Linked DNA regions of Homo sapiens: all the other regions are linked to region 3. Evidence: fine-mapped expression QTL. A gene starts in region 3. Each other region holds a variant in brackets. All regions are shown on one strand. Distances are from middle to middle.

Region 1 (8,187 bases), 27 kb before region 3:
GATTTTTTTAAATTTCTGAAAGTAGTTAGGTACCTGGTTACTTGGGGAAATAACGGTAGAGTCATTTTTCTACCTGCTGAGAGAGATCGGTCTTCTGCCTGAGTAGCCACAGGTATGGGTGCTTGCTCCTGCATCACAGTACTCAGCCTCCCCCAGTACCACCCAACACACACAATACAGCACTGCCCCAACATCAAGAAAACAGATGGCAACATCTTCATGGACTGAAGTGCTACTGCACATCAACACAGCTTCATGGACTGAAGTGCTATATTGCACATCAACACAGCTTGTTCCAGACCACAAATATCTGACTTCATTCCTTGGCTCTCTAGTGTCTTTGCAATACTCATAAACCACAGATTCATTCATTCATTCATTCATTCATTCATTCATTCATTCATCTATTTGAGACAGGGTCTCACTCTGTTACCCAGGCTGAAGTGCAGTTGCACAGTCACAGCTCACTGCAGCCTTGACCCTCTGGGCCCCAGTGGTCCTCCCACCTCTGCCTCCCACGAAGCTGGGACTACAGGCACGCCTGGCTAATTTTTTTTTTTTTATTTTTTGTAGAGACAGGGTTTCATTATGTTGCCCAGGCTGGACTTGAACTCCTGAGTTCAAATGATCTGCCTGCTTCGGCCTCCCAGAGTGCTAGGACTACAGGCATGAGCCATAGCACTTGGCCCTATGAACTTTGTACAATATCAGAGGTAAGACAATTAATTAATTTGCCTGTACAATATCAAGAGGTAAGATAATTAATTAATTTGCCCTAATCTTCACACAATTCACAGAACAGGAAAATATAATAACTGTCATTTTACTCTTAGGGTTTTTCCTGCTACTGACTTTGTGATCCAAAAAGATTTTTTTTTAAAGCAGTCTGTTCCTTAAAAGTTTTAGTTGTTTTTTTTTTTTCTTTGAAAGATGGATAACGTTAATGATTTCAGTAATCCTGTAGCCAAAAACTAGTTTGATTATCAAAGAACAGTGTTTACTGAATGCCTTCTATGTAGGGGATTCAGGTTATTCAATGGAAGGGCTACTCAAGTCTGGGCATCATGAAAATGAGTTGATTTGTCTGTTTCCAGATTTGGCAGCATTCAAACACTCAGAAGTCCACAAAAAGGACCTCCCTGGAGGTTCCACAGAAGATCTCCCCTCCTTCTGTGGAAAGGAGGGGCTGGGTAGATGTTTGTAAGGTGCCTTCCAGTTCTGATATTCAATGATTTAATAATCCTAAAATGGAAAGACGTTCAGGAGGTAGGGGTCGAATCAGGGACAGAGGAGAAGGTGGTACAAGCACAAAAAAAGTTTAAATTTTAAGATCATCGAACCTACAGGAAAAAAGATGGTGAGATAGTGAAGTCAGGAAGACCCTCTAGCTCTCAAATGAGACAGACTTCTATTTGAATCTCAGCTATGCCACTTCTCATTACACAACTTTGGGTGAGTTACTTAACCTCGAAGCCTTGGTTTCTGTATCTGAAAATGAGAATAATAATACCTACTACATAGTTTATCAACAGGATTAAATGAGATAGTTCATATAAAATGCTAGCAAAGTCCTTGGAATATTAGAAATAACAGTTTAAAATAAAAATGAGTTCAGATTGTCACAGACATAAGCATTTTTGTCTGTCATCCCTTCTTTTGGGGAGGAATCCTCCTAACTTCATATGGCTGACATGGGGCTGTCTTTACCCCTAACCTGAGCTCTAGGTGTGGCAGGTGACCCAGGCCTAGCCATACTCTGTTCCATCCACTTGGCCACGGTGATGGTTTCAGGAATAACATGTGACCTGAGCGAGGCTACTCAAAGACTCCATAGGGGTTTTTGAAGCTCCCTGTTCCTCTGAGACACGGAGATCTAGGATCACATGAGTCTAGAGCTGCCCAGAGCCATCCTGGAGAGTCATGGAGAGAGGAGTGTCCCTGAGGATGAGGACAACACTGACAAACAGAGGCAAGGGGTGGAGAAAAAAGGCAAGCCCTGGAGCTACCCAGAGCCATCCTGGGGAGTCATGGAGAGAGGAATATCCCTGAGGACAAGGACAACACTGAGAAACAGAGGGAAGGGGTGGAAAAAAGGCAAGCCCTGATGGCACACTTGGAGTTTGAGTCCAAGAGTATCAGAAGCTAGATCTATCCTGGATTATCAACAGAGCAGTTTGTTGTTTTCCTTAAGCAAAATTGAGTTGAATTTCTGTCACTTACAACTGAAGAATAGAGAGATGAGGCCACAACTTATGAAAACCTACTGATTATAATCAGAGAAATGAACATTTGCAGGAGCAGAGGCCACACAAAGAGAAAAGCTTTTCTTCCAAATTATTACTTGTTTACGTTTTAGAAGCAGAGTCCCCCACATTTTATTGAGGAAGATAGTTTTCTTTCTTCTTTTTTTTTTTTTTTTTTTATGCCAGTTATGACTAGCAGCTAGCCCCGTAGTGGCTGACAATTAAGTTACCGAGATACCAAAAGAACTGGGGCTCCTACCAGCTGGACTCCTACGAGCCCAGAACAAGGGAATAGCAGGAGTAACTGGAAGGCTGACCATGGAAGACTTTAGGATCACTCATTAGGCTGCACCAGCCTAAGAAGCTTCCATCAAACAAAGGTTGATATTATCATATGCAAAGAATCAAAACTTAAAAGTGTAACAATACTTAAAGAGAAAGTAAAATTTTATGTCTATAGAACAATATTGGCTTTTCTACATATGATCAAAATAATCTTAATTGATGTTCACCAATTCTTTAGCTGGTAGTAAGATAAGAATTGGTGATACCCATTTAACAGATGAGAAAGCTGAAGCTCAAAAAGCTTCAAAAATATTCCCAATATCATACATAGTTATTTGATGCTGGAGCAGGAACTGGAACCCAAGTTTTCTAAGCTTTATTCTAGTACATTTACATGCGTCATTTGTTCTCATTTGAGGTTGGGCATCATATCTGATAAGAACATACAAGGAAATTTCTTATTTCACATAACATTATCTTTTAATCATTTTTCATTCCCTTACTGTAATCTAAGGAGAAAATATGAAATACCAAATTTGCATAGCTGATGAAAATATTTTTCAGCCTTAGAGATTAGTAGGGTTTGTGTGAGTGTGTGTGTGTGTGTGTGTGTGTGTATTCAAAATTTGTAAAGGGATACTTTTTCTATATACTTATTTTCAGAAATAGTATAAGCACTCTGGTGGTATGCTTTCAAGAGACTCAATGTGGGTGTGTGAAAAAAAACCACATAAAGTAAAATCAGGCACAATGTCATATGACATACTTTATGCTATGGATAATTTCTGGTCTGGTATCTAAAAGAAAGAGGAAGTTCCAGTGTAAACCTCTAGAAGGAAAACAAAATGAACAGAAGGTAAATAATTTAAGAATGGTGTGTTAGTCCATTCAGGTTGCAGTAAGCAAATAACACAAACTGAGTAGCTTATAAACAACAGAAATTTATCTTTCACAGTTCTGGAAGACGGAAAGTCCAAGATCAAGATCCTGACATACTCGCTGTCTGATGAGCACCTGCCTCCTGATTCATAGGCTGCCATCTTTTTGCTGTGTCCTCACGTGACAGAAAA[G/A]GTGAGGTTCTCTCTGAGGTCTCTTTTATAAGGGCAATAATCCCACTCATGGGGGCTCTGGCCCCATGACATGATCACCTCCCAAAGGCTCCACTTCCTAATACTATCATTTTGGGGATTTGGATTTTAACATATGAAGTTTGGGGCAACACAAACATTCAGACCGGCGAGTAGGGAGAAAATAAAGCACTTCTTTGTACATGACTTCATTCTTGGGCTTCCTAGTATTCCAGTACCTGAACATGGCAGCAGAAGAGGTCTAAATGGAAGCAATTATTGTATTATCTATTGCCTCATACAGGTTTTGAGAACCACAAGCCTTCCTACCCTCCACACTGACCCGGGAAAGGTGGGGCCACTCTATGTGGTGCAGCATCCTTCTTTATGGGACAGTATAAGATGGTAAATGGAGAGGCTACCCCATTTCTGTTCGCACACAGTTCTGCTGTCATCAACAGCAGCCAAGTTCTTTTCGTGTGTAGCTGTATTCCTTCTTGATGAGATAAAACTAAGAAATGTGCTCAATTGTAGCCTTGCTGTATAGAAAGCACAAGAGGCTACCTTGTACCTTCTCTTCCTTATTTACAGGTTAGAGTCTATTTATTAGTAAGCTGCCAGGTTGATGAGTCAAGGAATTATGAAGCTCTGGCAGTTGCTTGCCTCCAGCCCCATCCTTTCTTGAGACAAGCACAGATGAGCATTCAAACCAAGCTCAATATTGAATCACTGGCAGTGCTCGACTGTTCTGCTAACATCAGTGACAGCAGAAATTTATAGACACCGCTGCAGGGCAGCACATATAGGTGTGGAGTGCATGACCATACAAAAATATTACAGGTCCCGTATTCAGAAACTGTACCAGGAGCTATCTACTTTAGCAACATAGCCTCAGGTACAAATTTACATGCAAGAATTCATATTCTACCAAATAAATCCCAGGCAAACAGAGTAATGCAAAAACATATTTCCTGCTGTCAAGAAAATTTCTGGCAAAATTAATCAACCATTCATCCATTCAGGCTCTTTGCATACCCTTTTGTCAAAGAGGGAATACTAAGAGATTTCTTTTCTCTTCCATGCACTCATTTCAATGAATTGAAGAATCCATCAAGCTTGAGTTGATTTATTGAACTGTCTCTTGGCTCAGCAGTACAACTACAGCAAATGAACTGGTAACTTCTCCTAAAACCAGCAGTGATTCAATTCAACAATATCTGATTTATTTAACTCTTTATAATTCCAGATTTAACTTATTTTTGCATTTCTAAGCAGAACAATTTTTTGGATAAAACCTTGCATATTTGCATGCATTATTTAGTATTCTGAAAGCAGTGATTAAAACATACAGAGCCTAAGACTTCTTCTTTTAAGAGACTTTAATAGCACATTTAAATTAGGTAGTTTTTTAAACAACGACTTATTTAAATACCTACAGCTGTGTTTTAAATGTTTCAAAGTGTTTTTTTTCTGGTGGTTAATGTTAATATTAACATTAGATGACCAATCACTTTGGTTTAGAGCACTAAAAACATACAAAATGCTTATTTTTGTATTTAATCATTCTACCAGGTAAGGAGAATCACTGTGAGGGGATATTTAAGGCGTAAACATTAGCGAGCAACCGAGCTGACTGTTTAAACACGGGTTTTTTCACTAAATCGCGTCCACTGAGCCCCATGGAGCCCATTTATCACACAACCAACTTTGCATTTTTCTTTGTAAAGATGTACGACCTTTGCCTATTAGATTTCATTAGCAGGGCACCATACAAGGCTCCTTTGCACATGGCAGGATAGAAAGCTCAACATCCTCGCCTCGAGGATTTGTGGGAACAAGCTCGTCTTCAATCTTTGTCCCTGGGAGGCACTTTTAACACCTGCCAACCATAGCACTATCATCAGAAAAACATTTAGAGATTTATCTTCGGGCTGGTAATTATAAGAGATAATTTGTTTGGAGTATGGATAAAGTTGGTCTAGCATAAACAAACTAGAGGCTCAAATTACATGATGAACATCATTAACTATTGATTTAACCACTGCAGGTCTGCAGGCTCACTGACACTCTCTGAAGATGGCGGGTTCCTAAAAAGTCATGAGAGTTGAGGGATGCATTTCAGTGTATGCTCAGAGACATCATGGCTTTCATCATCTTCCTTCTTCTTCTGAGTAACCAACTCTAGGTAACCTCTGTTTAGAAGTCTGAACATTAAGCACAAAAGAATTATTTGATACTTCTCATGTTTTAGAATTGAAATTACTTTGCTTTAGGAAGATTTTTAGAGGGATGAAGTCAAAGGTAGCATGTGTCATAGAGCACATTAACCTTTCAAAGCCCTTTGAAAGACTTTGAAATATATTATTATCTTATCACAGCCTCATAATCACCCTGTGAAGTGGGCAGAGCTGGTGTTGGAATCCAATTTTATAAGAAAACTGACACGGGGAGGGAGCTAAGAGCTTAAGGGCCTCAACCAAACTACATTACGCATGGATTACCTCGTATATTCCACTATTCTTATCCCATTTTCCACAAAGAACACCAAACTGCAGAAGTAAAACAGGATACTAAGGAGGAAGAGAAAAATCTCATGGACAAATATATAGTAGATGTAAAAATAAATGCTAGAGTGCAGGAGTAGAATTCCTGGTTTGGATACCAGCTGTAGCCCATGCAGCTCTGTCATTAAGTAGTGATGTGGCTCGATGTGAAAAGTGACAGCCTCAAGCTCTCGGTTTAGAGCCATGCCTATAAACACAGGAAGTACTCAATAAATGACACTATTAATAGTCTTTAATGCTATCATGAATGATGATAACAAAAAGAATGGGGTTGGCAAGCACCACTGAGCCTTTCCCAAATATAAGTCTATATAATCGCTTACCAGAAATCCCTGGAACCAGGGATATAGTTTGTTACTGAATTTTTTTTTTTTTAATTTGAGAAAGGTAAAATGGTGCTTATAATGTATACTATGAATCAACCCAAGTGAAGCCTAGGGCAGCTCCCCTAAAGCACACAAATATATATGCATCAAAATATATAAAGAGGGATAAAGGCCATAAATATCACATCAGAGTTTGCTGTCAGAGTTTCAAAAGCCCTAGAGTTTTCGGAACTCTTTAGATTTCAAAATTGTAGATGGGGGACTACAGACCTGGATTAATTCTCAATAAAATGTTAACTATCCACCAGGCGCGGTGGCTCATGCCTGTAATCCCAGCTCTTTGGGAGGCCAAGGCAGGCAGATCACGAGGTCAGGAGTTTGAGACCAGTCTGGCCAACATAGTGAAACCCCGTCTCTAATAAAAATACAAAAAATTAGCCGGATGTGGTGGTGTACACCTGTAATCCCAGCTACTCGGGAGGGTGAGGCAGGAGAATTGGGTGAACCTGGGAGGTGGAGGTTGCAGCGAGCTGACCTGGGCGACAGTATGATACTCTGTTTCAAAAAAAAAAACAAAGTTAACTATCAAATATCCAGTGCTCAGTGAAAAAGAGCAGGGATCATTTCTAATTATATGTGGAGGTTAATTTAGAATTAGGCATTGAAGACCGGGCACGGTGGCTCACGCCTGTAATCCCAGCACTTTGGGAGGCCGAGGCAGGCGGATCACGAGGTCAGGAGATCGAGACCATCCTGGATAGCATGGTGAAACCCCATCTCTACTAAAAATACAATAAATTGGCCAGGCATGGTGGTGGGTGCCTGTAGTCCCAGCTACTTGGGAGGCTGAGGCAGGAGAATGGCGTGAACCCGGGAGGTGGAGCTTGCAGTGAGCTGAGATCGTGCCTCTGCACTCCAGCCTGGGTGACAGAGCAAAACTCCGTTTCAAAAAAAAAAAAAAAAAAGATTTAGGCATTGAAGGGTCATCTGGCTGAGCCCCAACACGAGTCAATTCAAAGAGAGCCAAAAGGCATTAAAATAAAATTGTATTAATATGAACTCTACTAATTAATACAAATGGTGGATTGTTTGAAATTTGCATTTGCTTTCTCAATGAAAAAACATCTATTGGTTCTCAAATAATGCAAGACAAATGTTTTCCTTGCTTAAGAATAAGAACCCTTTATATTTAATTAAACATTTTTATAATTAAAACATAAATTTTAATATTTAATTAGAATTCCCTCTTAGCTAGTGATCGAGGTAGATAACCAAAATTCCTCTAGTTATCAGGCATCTGTTGGCTGATTGAAGTTATATGTTTCTAAAAGTTAGAAAACTAATTTTGTTTTTTAAATAATCACAAATTCACATCTCACTATTGAGATGGTTTCTCCTAGACACTCTTACATATTGATTTCTCCTACACTTATTTAAATTAGTGATGCTTGAACCCCACATCAAATGAACTCTTTCCTAGAGATAGGGCCACATTAAGATTTCAAAGCTGATTTCTTGTCAAGATTTAAGGGTGAAGAATACACTCACAAAAATTTTAAAATAATCTATGTGTAGGAACCCAAAAATTCCATTAAGTATAATACATTTGCTAATCATATACAAATATGGCCTATAAATGCACTGTGGTGTAAGTAGTACTCATTTCCCCATCAGCTGAGTTTTTAATTTAAATACACTGACA
Region 2 (8,187 bases), 150 kb before region 3:
AGATAGGAAAGGCAAAAATGAAGAGAGAATAAAGTTTGGGTGTACAGAAAAACCAAAATGTATACAGTCCTCCAGTACCAAGTGCCAAGCTAGATTGATGTTGAGATAAAACTGCTGCAAAGTGAAGCCAGAGAAAAATTCTTGCTGACTCAAAGAAAGAAAACCATCACATGCAGAATCAATTTTTATTTCTGAATTATACAGTGAGGCTATATAGATATATTGTGTCATTAAAGACTTTTATATTATTAATCTACATTATGGAGAATTTATTTACCAAAACGAAGTCTAACAGACACTTTATTCTGAGCAATCCAATGCATGATAGAAAAACCTTTAGATATATAAAAGATTAATTTGTGCACATCTAAATGTTTCTAAGGGAACAAACTACTGAGGCATTGTGATAAGACGAGAGTTGCAAACATAGTACCATAACTGAATATTTAAAATTACATCTTAACAAAGGCTAGGAGTAGTGACTTCCTCACACACCTCAGAGAATGTCTTAGAGAGTAACCCCATAGAACATTGTATGGCTTCAACAGAAACTTCAGGATTTTCTTCCACACTGAGCTACTGCCCTCAAACAAACTTTCTCACTCCTTGACACTATCTTCTGTGCAAATTTCTGTTCTTTCTCTTAATCAAGGAGCTTTGAGAAACAATGCTTTTGCCCCAATGACCCCTTGGTTCCCTTAACTACAGATCTATAGGAGAAATGCAAAGCAGTTCCCAGAAGTCAGAACCAAAGCAAGAATGTTCAGAGTGCAAGAGCTAGAGAGCTAAATCATGTGAATGTTTACCTCTGTCTACCTATCTGCTTAGGGATTATTTTTCTAGGATTCATCTAGGATTCTATTTACTTGGGGTGAATGTACATGGTAGCTTTTCCCTAGCACATGCAATTAAATTAATTTGTCTTTTAAGATAATAAAATAGCAGATACCTAAATATCAGAGTGGTTATGCAGCCTACAGAACAGCTGAAACAAAATCATTGGGACAAATGCCCATAATTTTCATGTAGGAAGATGAGGCTTCAAACAGCATACCACCTGAGTAGTTTTCCATAGATGAGCTGGACAAGTTAAAAATATATATATAAATGGTGAGATTGTTGCTGTGTCTGTTTGGCTATAACAAGAGCCCTCTATGAACAGCTCTATGCCCTCAGGTTTGCACCACTACACTGAACACTGGATTTTTCATTACTTCCTGTGACAGGGTGACCATGGAATTCATTTTACAAAATGGGATGCTACTGAGTGAAAGTAGCAAATAGGTGAACAAACAGGAATATTGGGTAACTGTATTTACGTCAACACTGTGTTCTGGGAGAGGTGTAATTTGGGCTTTCAAAAGTGGAGGTGGGCTGTGGGAGGGGGTGGGCTGTAGGGTTTTTCTGTCCAACAAGCCAGATGTTATGAAGGAGGAGATCCAACAGAACATACAATTCAACAAGATACTCGCTTGAAAGGATCAAGAGGAGAAAAGAGAAAACGATGGAGGCTTATGGAGGAAAGAGGGCTGAACTGCGTGTGTGTGGGCACGTGCGGAAGGACGGGAGGAGACAGAGGTGAAGCAATGAGGTCAGAGAAACTCAATCACCTGTGCAAAGATGTCGACTTTAAAGTAGTTACAAGCTCCTTCTACCCAGGACTCCAAATATCCTGGACAGCTCTCCCCAATGAATTTTCCACCATGAGACTAGGGTGGAACCGCTCTCACCCCTTCATTTTTATTTCTGCCAGCTTCTTTGTAATAGGAGACACTGGAGACTAAGAATGGTTCCCAGAGTGAGGCACGGACTTCAGCCAACACCTGTATATACTAAAGAAGTGCTTCTAAGAAGGCTTCATTTTGGCAATTGCAACCTAAGCAGTGATTTTGTGGCTAGGACTCCTCATGTTTTTCAGCAAGCCATTTCTTTTATTTCACTGTCTGTGGATGTCAAAACATTGATTTTTGACAAAAATAAATTAGTTTGCAGCCTCATTTGTCCGTTCTGTTAGAGAAACTATCTAAATACAAATTGGGGTGGAGTAGGAAAGGATGCGTTTGCTAGAGCAGGGGTCAGCAAACTTTTTCTGTAAACATAGTCAATGTTTTAGGCATTGTGGGACATACGGTCTGCTGAACTGCTCAGCTCTGCGGCTGTAGTGTGAAAGTAGCTGTAGACAGTACAAAAACAAGTTTGTGTGGCTGTGTTTCAGTACCACTTTATTTATCGGCACTAACATTTGAATAATTTTCATGTGTCATGAAATATTCAAAAAAAATTTTTCCAACCCAAAATGTAAAAACCATTCTTAGCTTGCAGTGGTGAGCGAGACTTAGCTGTGGTTTGCCACCCCACCTCACTAGAGGCCTACAGACTTGAAATCTTGTTGGCATTTTAAAGGGCATATGAAGACTATAAAGGAAATATTTTGTACATGAAAGTAATACTCATATTTAATTTTAAGCCTATGATCAGATTACGGTGTTTTAAAGCAGATCACTTTTTATAATGCATGCGAGAGAGGAATTCATGAATAACTGAATGCTACCAAATGATTTTTGAGTAGGCCACCTTGCACTTGAGTTCTTGGCACTTAAAAGGTAACCTCTGGAGCTGAGTTTATGGCCTGAAACTCAGAGAGCTACCAAACATGCAACACGGATTCTTAAATTTCACAATGTGGTGGTCACCAACATTCATCAGGAAAATGATGTTAAAAGACCAATTTACATAAAATATAATGCCCAATTTGACAACTAAAATAAAGTTGACGTGGATTAGAAAGCCCGGCTTCCCTTTGAGAAGTTAAAGGAGATTCTGGTAAACAAGAACAAAACGGGCACTTAGCTGATGATGGTTTTACACCTTGTGTGGTTTGTGGCTGTCCTAGTCAGGCTTAGGATTTTAAAGGTGGAGTCAAACAGGGGAAACTTTCCTGGGGAGAGTTGAGACCTGTGTACTTTAAACCTAATGCAATCACCAAAAGGAAATCCAGCTAATCTATGGAAACAAATCCACTCATACTTAACAGTGGATTAAAGGTATCTTACTGGTAAACACCAGTCTAAGGGACAAAGTATCACTACACCGTGTTAATGAAGTATTGAAATGGAAGGTCCTACTTTCTTGCTAAGGCTCAACTAAAATCTTTGAGGCACATAATTGGCAAAATAGGAAAGTACACACAATTTCATAAAATATCTTAAGAGTAAACAAACTTTCTATTTTTCCCCTTAGAAATTTAGAATGGCACCAGGTAGTGCAAAGTGGAAAAAGGTAACATCAGCCCTGTCTCTTTCAGGTAGATATGTTTCAACAGAACCATGAACCAGAAAAGCATCCTCTTCTTCCAGCATGGCCAACTAAGGCTTTTCTTTCAGCTTCAAGTCAATACTGCAAAGAAAAGAAAAAGAGAGAGAAACATGAGAAACCAAATGAGAGACATTTAGTAATGATTTGGGTAGCACTGTGTTTGCTTTTTTCCTCAAAGGACATACTGAAAATATTTAAATCATGCAAGTTTCTTATAATAGAAAAATCTGGTAAAACCCAATCCTCCTCTTGTCAGGCTTTTCTCCAACATATGAAATCTGTTTAGTTCTACAAAATCGTTTCTGGAAGCATTTTACACCTTTTCAAAATGATCCAGGGAGGTAAAAAACTCATGTAAAGGCTCATTCCCAAAGTCAATTAAGATAAGGAGCATTAGTGTATTCCAGAAATCATGCCATTTTATTTAATAAGTGACCTTTCCTTGTGAAGCAAACAAATGTTCTGCCTCAAGTAAGTAATGTCTGACAAGCACTAAATAGTAAGAAATGGTAAACAACAAAACAACACCAAACATTTTCTAGAAGCCAAAGGAATTGACTGAAAGGGGTTAGCCTACCTTACTGAGATGGATGTTTATAACTAAAGAAAAGCTTGTTTTTCAGAAGGTCAAATGGGTTCCCAAGTATCTGAGGAGTAAGCCTAAAACTCACT[C/T]GAATCACGTCTCTCTTCTGCTTCTTAGTGAACACAGCACAACTTCCTACCGCATCCACCCAAGAGGAAGAAAACCAAAAGCCAGTAAATAGAGGAAGAATTTCAGTTGCGATAAAAGAGAAACTATTAGTTTGCAAAGGGTGATTTGGCACGTATCTGTGGATTTTGCTTATCTCTGCTCCCTGAGCCATAAGCTTGCATGTTGCAAAGGTTACTGTGCTTTACTTGTGGAATTTGCGGCAGCTGAGCAGTGTTCATTCTAGAAGCTTTGCAAATAAAGCCACTGGCAACTCACGCTGCCTGCCCATCCAGTTTACAGTAGTAAAGTATCTTTCCTTTGAAATATAGTCAGCAATTCCGTCACTTATTAGCAGTGGGGACTTGGCCAAGTCACCCACCTTCTCTAAGTTTCCATTTCTGTATCTGTAAAATGGAACGGTCATACCGCTTTCACAGCTTGCTAATGAATAAGTCTAAAGCATTTTCAATTGTACATAATGAACATATCATAATGTCTGTTATTATTAGCAGCAATAGTACCTCGGTGGATTTTTTTTGTTGTTGTTTTGTGTGTGTGGTTTTTTTTTTTTTTTTTTTGAGATGGAGTCTTGCTCTGTCGCCATGCTGGAGCTCAGTGGTGCGATCTCGGCTTACTGCAACCGCCGTCTCCTAGATTCAAGCGACTCTCCTGCCTCAGCCTCCCGAGTAGCTGGGATTACAGGCAGACGCCACCATGCCCAGATAATTTTTTGTGTTTTTAGCGAGACGGGGTTTCACCCTGTTGGCCAGGATGATCTCGATCTCTTGACCTCGTGATCCGCCCACTTCAGCCTCCCAAAGTGCTGGGATTACAGGCATGAGCCAGCATGCCCGGCCCCTCAGTGTTTTTTTGAAATGAGCAAATAGCTCTTCGCTTTATTACCCTACTTGCAACAATCTTGTCTCCTTTGGAAAGCCAAAATCATCATGAATATTTCTAGTTTTCAGGCCCTCTGACTTGTTTTCTTACCTGCAGAGTTTGCTTTAGAGGTATCCTCTTTTTATCCACTGTGACCCCGACATCTTTTTCATATACCTTTACAAAACAGGTCATTTAAAAAATATACTGTTTTTGCTTTTAAAAGGTCCTTCCTGTTCCCGGAAATCTGTAGTAAGTTTGATTTGGTGATTGGAAATTTGATTCTTTCTCTCACGGTGTTGGTTGACTTTTTCCCATAGATGAAGAGAATATTTACTAAACCAAAATTTGGGGCACATCGTCTAAAAACTGCGAGAGTGGGTCAGAATATGTGAAATAGTCTTGGAAGCTTAAAAGAACATGGTCACCTTGTTTCACCATCGGGCCCCTGAGCTAACACTTACACCAGGATGCCCATCTCGATTATTTTTCGTACTGACTTTTTTGTAAATCTTCTAGGATTTAATTCATCCCTTCAGCTTTCGTTAACTCAAAAGCTAAAAGACTGGAACCTGTTTACCCAGTTTATGAAATAAATGAGATAGTCAAAAGTGAACAATTTTCTTGTAAGTAAATACAGGAAACCACTTGGAAGGTTAATATTTGAGAGAACAGCAACGTTGTGGAGTTAACAAAGCTATTAACAATGATGCTAATTTAAGCTTCTTCAAATAGAGCCACTCTTGATCACTGTACTTTAAACAAATATGTAAAAATATAAAAAGGCATGTTGCAAGTTTTGGAACATGAAGAAATTCATAAAATCCAAACCTAAAAGGGAAGGAGACAAGCACCCAGGGCTATTTAAAAATAAATAAATAAATAAATACATAAATAAATAAATAAATAAAAGTATCCTTTTTGGAAAAAAGAATACTTTTAATTAGAATTGAATATTCTTAATCCTCGGGCAAATGGGCTTAGTTTTCTATAAGCAACTTTTTCCTGAGACAGAGCAACCTTCTGATAATTTTACAATAGGCCATTTTTGTGTCTAACACGTATTAAATGAGGTTCCTTACAAACTGTCAGACAATATTGTTTAATGATGAATAAAAACATTTGCATTTTATGTAGAAAGAAGAAAATGGGCATAACCTTCCCTTCTGTCTCTGAGGAAAATGAGAGGCCACTACGATAACAGCACACACTCCATCTTATTCTTGGACTGATCGAGCCCATTGGAAGAACCCTTGCCCATTTTGCAGTGTATTCATTCAACACTAGCTCTGGAAGGTGTAAAATGCTTCCACACAGAATGCTCCTCTGTCCTTGATGGCCTACAGTGTAAAGGTGCCAGAAGAAGTAAATGCAGCCCTTATTCTAATACCAAAGAAAGCCAGAAATCCAGGACTGGAAGTCAGAAAAAAAAAAAAAATTCTTGGTTACTCTTGCCCCTTATCCTGATCTCATCATCCACACTGTGATCTTGTGCCTCTTAAGGGCTCAGGAAAGAGAGGGCTGAAGAAAGGGAAGACTTGAGAAGAATATGTTCTTCTAAAAAGTGGGAAGTAACAATAACAATTTGTAGTATCCCTCCCTCCTCCATGCCCAGCCCTGAAATGAACCCAGACAGGAAGCAATGGTTGCCCTCTTCCCAACCAAACAGCCCTACGTAGGAATAAGAAGCAAGACAGACAAGGCAAGCAAAGAAGTGGGTAAGCCCCAAGATGTAGCAGCGATGGGCCAGCCATTGGCTGGGCTTCCACATGTGCCCTCTCTGCTGCTTGTTAACTGTGGGCTCTGTTAACTGCTCAAGGGGGGTGCTGTTTTGCTGAGGGAAGAAATAGTTGCAAAAAGAATTATCGTGCACTGGGGAATTGAGGTATTATTGCTTTGCAGAATTTCATGTGCCAATTTCCTTGAAGCAATTGTTATCTTCATCTAAAAGAGGTGGGACAACAGTGACCTTTGGAAAAATAGCTGTGTGATTTCAAAGGTCTCTCTATGGTCTTTGTTCTTTTTTTAAAATTTTATTTAGAAAAAATAAATTTTCCTTGCAGAGCAGGGCTAACTCATAGGCATGCATCCAGAATTGGCCCAGTCTTTGCTCTTTGTGAACTTTTTCAGTTGGGACTGTCTCTGGAGTTTTTGTGCCTAAACTTCCTTTAAGTTGCAAGGTCAACATGGCAAATGTGAAGATATTTCACTATAATTTTCCAACTTCCTTTTGGACCTCAACGCAAAGGAGGTCCAAAGACAGCAAAAGGTGACAATAGAGATGAGACACATTTAAAACTGATCTTTCCCCTCTGCTTCCTGATTGCTAGGAACAAGGGCAATGTTAAATTCTCCACAACTCAAACCAAATTGGAAGCTCCTTGTCGGATGACCAAGTTCTCTCTGAAAGCTTGCTGGTGACCACAGTTTATTCCCTGAAACTGACTTGGCCACTAATTCGCTCTGTTCTCTTAGGTGAATAGTTTTGTCTTTCATTAAATTGGAAGTGGTACACCCATCTAGCATTAAGACCACCTCTTTCTGATTTAAAAACCATTGGCCCTGGAGCTATACTGCCAAGGTCCAAATTCCAGCTCTGGGCCATTTTTACAGCTGTAAAACAGTGGGCTGGTCAGATCGTCTCTCCATGCCTCTCTTTCCTCATCTGTGAAATGTACCTCATAAACTTATTCTGAGGATTAAAATCAGACACTGCGTGTGAAGCTTTTTACAGTCTGGAACGTGGTTAAGAACTCACTACATGTCCAATTTCTGCTTCTCACAGGATGGCAATCCTCTAAATAGATCATTCCTACAGTCTCATACAGGCTCGAATTCCTCCTGGATGTTGCAAAACAAGCACATTTTCTCTCCATCCACCAAAGTATTAAATGGAAGTTCCAACTTCCACTAATTAAAATAGAGATGATGTCATTCAGAAAGCAGAATTGCATTCCTCTTGCCCAAATGTTCTTACATCTGGTCCTAATATTCATTTTCTTCCCATTTTTGGATTGGAAAAATAGAATGCCATGTCCACAGGTTGTCCTTTAGAAATTTAAGGGGTGATCGTGAATGAAATGGTGTGAAGCTGGCAAATATAGCTTCAGGTTTCTAATTTCAGGAATGGAGCACAGGAAAGCTGAACATCTAAACAGGGTTTACCCAGTCCTCAGTGTGTTTTCTTTCAGAGCCCAGCCATACAACACTACAAGTAACCACATAGCTGTTATTGATGGTGAATTCTTACTCCTTCTCCATAGAAGACATTTCTGGATCATTGTAAAGGCAGCTAGTTCTGA
Region 3 (8,187 bases):
TCGTCTGGCAATAAAATCCCCCACATTTACCATCTTTCAATTTATCCATGTGGCCTGATTCTTCCTGGATGCTGGACAAGAACCCAGGTACCAAGAGGGCACTGAGCTGGTTAACACTTAAGCCATCTGTGGACTGCAGAGTTAAAAGAGCACTGTAGCATGCCCACTGGGGCTTTGGGAGTCACAGGCACCCAGCCCTAGATGCTACCACGGGGCCGGAGCCCAGAAGCACTCGCCCTGGCTCCTGCACCTGCCCATCTGCGTGCTCCTCCTCCCATAAGGGGTTTGAGCACACAGCTGCCAAACAGATGAGCCACACCCCTGTCACACGTCCTGCGAGGGCAGTCAGGGAATTCTCCAGTTTCACTTCCTTTGTACACTAACATAATAATAGTTATCCCCTACAATTTAAATAAATTAGTTTAAAAAGCTGGTGCACTTGGCAAAGAGCTTGTCCATTGGCTCTAATCTGGCTCCTTGGTGTAGAAACAGGGCTGCCTTCCTCTTCCCTGGGTACCTGGCAGTTGGGGTCTGTTGATGGTACTGCAACCTGAGCACCCGGCACACAGCAGGCACTCCGTATATGTTTCTGAATGAATGGATGGATATCAAAACCATACTCACATTTTCTCCATCACACACCAGCTACTTCCCTGGTACCCTTTTGTCCATTACTGATGCTATAGGATATTATTTCTATCATTTTCTTTTCCTCATCACCTAGGGCAGATATTTTGGAGTCACCCTTGATATCACTGCTCCCCCATATCAGTACCAAAGATTCTTCTCTTTTTCTCTAATCTACTTTTTCCCTTCTTACTTTAATAATTCCAGGTCACATGCTTATGACTTGTATCCAAAACCATTAGAATAACCTCACTGCTCTTCCTGACATCTGTTTACCCTGCATTAGTCCACACTACATGCTGCATCCAGATTAATCATCCTAACTATGACCATGATTTTAGCCAAAAGCCCCCCAAAAGGAACAGGTATCACAGTATTCCACATCACAGCCACGTCCTACCTCTCCACCCTCATCTTCTATGTGTCCTTCTAGACTCACTCTACTTCAACCAAGCCGAAAACCCTGGCTCTCTACATGCATCTTAGATTTACTGCATTCATGCCTAGCAAGAAACCTGTACATGTCCAGACTCGGGCCGGGCGCGGTGACCTGTAATCCCAGCACTTTGGGAGGTGGAGGTGGGTGGATCACTTGAGGCCAGAAGTTCGAGACCAGCCTGGCCAACACTGCGAAACTCCATCTCTATTAAAAATACAAAAATTAGCCGGGTGCGGTGGCCCATGCCTGTAGTCCCAGCTACTTGGGAGGCTGAGGCACGAGAATTGCTTGAACCCAGGAGGCAGAGGTTGCGGTGAGCCGAGATCACACCACTGCACTCCGGCCTGGGTGACAGACTGAGACTCTGTCTCAAAAAAAAAAAAAAAAAAATACTCAACAGAGGTTTGCTGAATTTAATCCAACCAAATTTAATAGAATTGCCTGAATCTTTATGCTGAAAAATGAATCTGAATTAGAAGCCTCATTTGGGGAGTTTAAATCTACCTCATGCCTTTCTTCCTCCTCCACCATTGGTCCTGTCTTCTGTGAGATTGCTGCCCCATCTTTTTTTTTCTTGAGTCATAATACACAAACTGGTCAGAAGTGGAACACACCATCAAGGAAGGGGTGATGCATCTGTGAGGAACAGTCACCTATATTTGTGTAAGTCAGACAATTCTCATTTGATAAAATGGTGTCGACAAAAATTAATCATCTATATACCTCAAGTCTATGTTTAGGGGCCTTTAATCCCCAAATAACAAAAGACTTAGTCAATTTAATTTGTAAGAATTCTACTTTTGTAGACCTGAACTGGATACAATTTTATCTCTGGACATCAAAGCCCGGGGTCAAATGATTGCTTTTCTCTTTTGCTGGGAGTTTTTGTTGTCATGTTTTATACTTTAGACATTTTACTTTTGGTCACTAGGTGGCTCTGAATTTCCATTAGAAAGTGAAAGTCTTTAGAAAACACTGGAAAACATACATAATTTTCACCAAATAATTTTAAAATACTTCATTCAACAATGATTGACTTGAGAATATTAATCAAAGTTTATCAAAAGACCCATAAACTCCAAATAGCACTCTGTCAATCTATCTTATGTAGATTTTGAGATAGATTATTTATAGCTTTACATGAATTATAGCTTTTGCATTGGTTATAGGTACAATTTTTAAATGATTCATAAACTCTGTTCCAAATAATGCCACTCTGGAGCTATATCATATTATGTATCATGTATGGTCAAACAACTGGGTCCGTCATATTTAAAAGACAACTTCAAAATACTGTCATATAACTTTAATGGCTTTAAAGTCTTTCCTAAGTGTACTTTAGCAGCCTCCAATGCATCTGGTGCCAACTCTGAAATCATTTTTAAGGTTAGCAATTTTAAACAAAAAGAATGGTTAGAACAAGGACCTTTAGCCAGTTTGGAAGTCACCAACAGTTTCCTTCTGTTGTTGGAAAAAGTGATTTCTTTGCCCTGAGTTCTACAACAACCATTAAATGTGCTGCATTTGACTCCTGTAAAGATTTAACTTTTTTCCAAATCTTTAATGACAATACTCTCTGTTATTTCATCAAAAAGTGTGTTAACATAGGAAGCAGTGATCCAAAGTCATTTCCGGATAACCTATTAATAAGGGAGGCAGGAATGGCGGTTGCAGAAATGTGCGCAGAGAGAGCAACTACCATGGGAATAATCCAGATGGCGGTCTGCTTGGCTCGAACTTTCTGGAAGAGGCCCATCTTTAAAATGCTTAATACCACTTTTTACTATAGATTCCACACATGTTCATTTCTTAACAAACTCTGAGAGAGGTGGTGAGATACTCTTGCAGTAATTTTACCCCCAGCCCCCTGGACCATCCTTTTCAAACTCTCCAAACTCTCCACGTTTCTTTTTACATGTTCAAAATGCAGGCAGTGTAGAATGACTGTCTGTGGCTCCTCCAGTCCTAGCTCTTGTATGGAGGCGGAGGTCCCTACATACACGACCACATGAGATTGAGCTCCAGAGTCAGGCCCTTCGCCATGAGCATGGCTGTGGACACGTAAGGAGCCTCAGTGGCTCCACAACTTGGCAATCTTAATCCAAACAAACCAGGTAAAACGTTTTTAGTTGGACTCAAGATAAATCCCAGGCAGAGCAATCCTCAAAAGAAACCAGCAAACTGGATATTTGGTTTCTGATTTACAATTTTTTTAAAACAGACAAAATAGCTTCCTTCACTCCCCACTGTGTCTTTGGCTCCAACCTCATTGAATGGTTGCCATTTCTGAGACACATCCTCTACCGCAAACCTGCACTCCTCCCACCTCGTGCACCATCTCCCCTTCTAGCTCCATCTGGCAATGTGTACTTTTCCTCAAGTCCTGTGTCAAACGATGTGAAGACTGAGGTCTTCTTCTGGTCGGGGCAGCATTATAGCATCATGACAAAAAGCCCAGGTGCTGCCTGCACTGGAAGTCAAGTCAATTACTGGTCATGAGATCTTGAGCAAGTTACTTAATTTCAGTTGCCACATCCATAAAATGGGATCATAGCAGGACTACTGGTGTCACAGAGTTACGTGAGGTTTAAATAAGTTACCTTAAAGGACTTAGTACAGTACCTGGTATACTATGTGGCTTAAGTATTAATAGGCTTTGCAGTAAGTGTAGTCATCTAAGTGAGCCATAACAAGCATAGGCGTGCTTCTGGGAGTGCTCACCCCAAGTCTGAATTAGACGCAACTACTCTCTACTCTCCTGGAGAAAACATACTCGTAATACCACTTCAAACACAAGCTGGTGGTGTACTTGCCCAGTTCTACCAATGAACTGGGATGACACAAAAGTAATGAACAGATGAAGTTTCATATCCCCCGTCCCCAAGAGAGGATCTGGTGTCGTCTATTTAGCTTCCTTGCCTCTCCTGTGCTCTCTGAGGACTGAGAGATTAAAAGCCACGTTGGTGGATACTGCAGAAGAGCAGGTGGGGAGGAGAATGGTATGGCAGTGACAGGAAGTGCTGGGAGGCCCAATATGGAGAAGGAGAGGGGTAGTGGGGAAGAGGGAGTGGGATAAAGGGCATGGGGAAGCATGGGGAAGAGGGAGCTTTCTTCTGTGTTTAGACAGTGAGAGGTGCCCATGAGTCAATAAATAAAAGAGGAAAGGAAATTTAATGAGTTGCCATGGACTAAGCACTTCGATTGAGTTACACTGTTTGAAAGATATTAGTAAAGATGGGAACTCACATTTGGACAAGACTTCACTAGAGGAGCACCTTAGGAATTGACCTGTGGATCTCAACTTCGTTAGGGTTAAAAGATTATTTGTTGGGCAAGGGTAGGACCAATAACCTCATTCACAATGCATTCATTGATTCGTTGATTCACAGAGCAAATACTTCTGAACAACTCCTGTGTTTCTGGCACTGTTCTAGGCACCAGTGATATAGGAGCCAACAAGACAGACATGTCACTGCTCTCATGGAGCTGCATTTCAGTGCATGGAGGCAGAAAACAAACAAACAAATAAATAAATAAATAAATAAATAAGATAATTTTTAATAGCAACGTGTCAACATAGTGTGACGGGAAGGAGCATGATGAGACAGAAGGAAGGTTTAAACTGGGAAATCTGAGAAATGGTATGGTTGTATGTGGGTTGGCATTCTTGCATGATGGGAGTGGCCACCTGCTTTCATATTCTGAAGTCAGAGTGTTCCAGACAGAAGAAATAGCAAGTGCCGAGAAGCTGGCATCAGAAAAACAGAGGGGAGATTTGTGTGGCTGCAGCCGAGGGAGACCAGGAAGATCTGCATGGTGGGAAGGACCTGATGATACAGAGGTCTGTAGGCCATGGGAATGGGTTTGGAATTTTATTCAAAGAGCTATGGGAAGTGACTAGAAGGTTTAAAGTTGGGGAAGAGGTTTTGTGTTTCTGTTATATTTGTGTTTTATACAAATTACTCTGGTTGCTGTGTTGATAGGACAGCAGAAGGGTAGGAGCAGGGACACCAGTTAAGTTATTGCAATGGTTAAGGTGAGAGGTGGTGGCTGGGCCTAGGCCTTTTTGGAGTGAACAAGCTATTTGCTTGGCTTCCATGATCCTTCTCCCTCCACTGGAATGGAAGGTACTTGATATTAGAGATTTTTGTCTGTTTCATCACTACTGTAACCCCAATGTCTACAACAGACTCTGGCACATAGAAGACACTTGTTTAATGTTGCTGACTAACTATACTGAGAGAGAAGAATGATGCAGAGCAGATTTAGAGAAAAAGTCAAAGGTTCTGTTTAGCACATGTTAAATTTGAGATACCCATTAGATATTTAAATGGAGATATCAAGCAGGCAAGTTAGAGATATACGTTTTGAGTTCAGTAGCAGATGTACATTTGTTGGGGGCGTGACATTAACATATAACCACTTAGAGTGGACATGCAGTTAGAGAAAAGTCAATGAGCTGGAACCAAGCTGGGAATTCCAACATGTAGAAGTTAAACACAAGAGGAGGAGCCAGCAAAGGAAACAGAAACAGAGCTTCCAGCAGGTGGGGGGCATTTGGAAGAAAACGATGCCATAGAAGCCAAGATGAAATAGACATCAAGGAGAAGGAAGTAGTCAATTGTTTTGAATGCTATGAAGAAAGATAAGAATAGGTAAATAGTCCTTATATTTGATAACAGAGGTCACTAGTGATCTTGATGAGGGGTTTCAATAGAATGGTGGGATTATATACCTCCCTGGATTCAACTGAGGTAAGGAAGGCATACAGAATAGAGACAGGCACTATAAACAGCTCTCATAATTGCATTCTAGCAATTAGCACACTGTCTGATGGGGAGGTGGCTCAATCTTTCTTGCATAACTGAATGAATGAGTAAACTATCTATCCATCCATCTATCCATCCATCCCTCCACCCATCCTTCCCTCCATCCATCCATGGGGTTTGAGCCTTCAAATGTAGAAGGCACAGCCTTATCTAGTGAGAAGACATTTGGATTAGGAGTTAAGAGACAGAATCATACATCCACAGTCACTGTTTAGCTTTCTGAACTTGTCCAAACCAGTGCTTTTCTGGGACTCACTTTCCTTATCTATGAAATGGAGAGGTTAGTTTAGATAACCTCTAAGATCCAGCTTTAAAATTCTTGACTGAAGGCCTAACCTTTAGAAATATCTCGTTAGAGGCCAGACGCGGTGGCTCACGCCTATAATCCCAGTACTTTGGGAGGCCAAGGCAGGCTGATCACGAGGTCAAGAGATTGAGACCATCCTGGCCAACATGATGAAACCCCGTCTCTACTAAAAATACAAAAAAAATAGCCGCGCGTGGTGGCAGGCACCTGTAGTCCCAGCTACTTGGGAGGCTGAGGCAGGAGAATCGCTTGAACCCTGGAGGCGGAGGTTGCAGTGAGCCAAGATTGCGCCACTGCACTCTAGCCTGGGTGACAGAGCAAGACTCTGCCTCAAAAAAAAAAAAAAAACTCTTTAGAAATATACCAAAGTAAATGCAATATCATTTTTGATTTTTACAAACTAGCTTCAAGCAGAAAAGACAAAAGCTTCAGGGGATACCATATGTTCACTCCCCAGGCAAAGCCTATCTGTGTGGGATTAATGACAGCATTGAGTGGGTGGCTGTGTGCCTTGTGGGAGAATACGTTACTAATGGTCACTGGAAGAAAAGGAGTCAGCTTTCTCTTTTCTTATGTCTTTAACGATGCTTAACTCTCCCTTATTTAAAATAAAACACATATTAGATTCTGCATCTGAACCAACATTAACATTCCATTTCTTTCTGCTAAATTAACTTTCTTGGACAACTGGATCATGTTCATGGATAGTGCCTCTCCCATCCACTTTTTCTGGGAATCTTGCTTTCCTTCCATGTTTTGGTCCTTACATACCTCCCTCGTTTCATCCTGCGCCACTTCCCCCCAATCACAGAGGTCCAGTCACACTCGTCTTCTTCAAACATGTCAATTTTGCTCCTGCTTTAGGGCCTTAGGATTTGCCATTTCTTCAGCCTGAAATGTACAATCCCCAGATTTTTTCATGTGTAGCTTCTTATCACATAGGGAGTCCAAACATCACTTTCTCTGTGAGGGCTTTCTCTCCAAAGCACTGTTCTGCGGTCCAACCCTACCACTGTCACTGTCAACTCATACACAGGCATACACATACACAACGCATACACATGATCACTATTCAAAATGACCATTTTCCTTATTTATTGTTTATCATCTACCTCTCCCACCTCGCCACACCTTCCCCCCAAGGCGAAGGTAGGCTTCGTGAAATCTTAACCTTGCCTGTCTTATTCACTGCTGTATTCTGGTATAGCGTCTCCAACATACTTACTGATGAATAAATATCTGTTTAACAAATAAACTCTCTCTCCTCTACTGAAACTATTGTTGGCAGTCACCAAGGACCTATTCAAAACAGAATCTTTGGCCAGGCACTGTGGGTCACGCCTGTAATCCCAGCACTTTGGGAGGCCGAGGTGGGCAGATCACTTGAGGTCGGGAGTTCAAGACCGGCCTGACCAACATGGTGAAACCTCGTCTCTACTAAAAATACAAAATTATCTGGGCATGGTGGCACACGCCTGTAATCCCAGCTACTCGAGAGGCCGAGGCAGGAGAATAGCTTGAACTCGGGAGGCAGAGGTTGCAGTGAGACAAGATTGTGCCACTGCGCTCCAGCCTGGGCAAAAAGAGCAAAACTCTGTCTCAAAAAAAAAAAGAAAGAAAGAAAAAAGCACAGATTCTTTATTTTCCTTGCTTTCCACTTCTTCCTTGCCCTTGACTCCATTGATCACCTCTTTAAAAAGAAAAAGAACTATTTTCCAGAACCTTCGCTTCTGTGACTGCATGACACTACTCTCATGGTTGTTTCCCTACCTTCTTTGTTGACTTCTCATCTTCCTCCTCCCCTAACAGGAGGCACCTTAAAGCCTCATCTCTTGACCCTATTTTGTTTTAATACATATCGTGCATCTCTCGTGAATCTTTAAATGAATCCAGCCTGCCCAGCACAAGTCTATCCAGGGGTGTAAAAACCCAGCTGGAGGGAGTGCACACTGGCTCCTATCTTCTATCCGAACACTGTCCTTTTC

The links. PIP is the estimated chance that this variant, and not a neighbour inherited with it, causes the effect.
Region 1: its variant is fine-mapped to the expression of PCA3 in cerebellum (GTEx, PIP above 0.99).
Region 2: its variant is fine-mapped to the expression of PCA3 in cerebellum (GTEx, PIP 0.96).

The regions. Positions count from the first base shown.
Region 1 is chr9:76,733,017-76,741,203 of GRCh38, forward strand. The region is part of intron 6 of PRUNE2 (prune homolog 2 with BCH domain); the gene reads right to left. Among named protein-coding and RNA genes, the nearest start is that of PCA3, 27 kb to the right of the region's middle. The variant G/A (reference allele first, on the strand shown) is at 3,599.
Region 2 is chr9:76,611,205-76,619,391 of GRCh38, forward strand. It overlaps PRUNE2 (prune homolog 2 with BCH domain), which reads right to left. Exons shown (of 19, transcript NM_015225.3): 18 at 8,136-8,183; 19 at 172-3,396. The coding sequence ends at 3,366. All of the region lies in intron 5 of LOC105376095 (a long non-coding RNA gene), which reads left to right. Among named protein-coding and RNA genes, the nearest start is that of PCA3, 150 kb to the right of the region's middle. The variant C/T (reference allele first, on the strand shown) is at 3,988.
Region 3 is chr9:76,759,649-76,767,835 of GRCh38, forward strand. PCA3 (prostate cancer associated 3) reads left to right here and starts at 4,790. Exons shown (of 4, transcript NR_132312.2): 1 at 4,790-4,907. The region is part of intron 6 of PRUNE2 (prune homolog 2 with BCH domain); the gene reads right to left.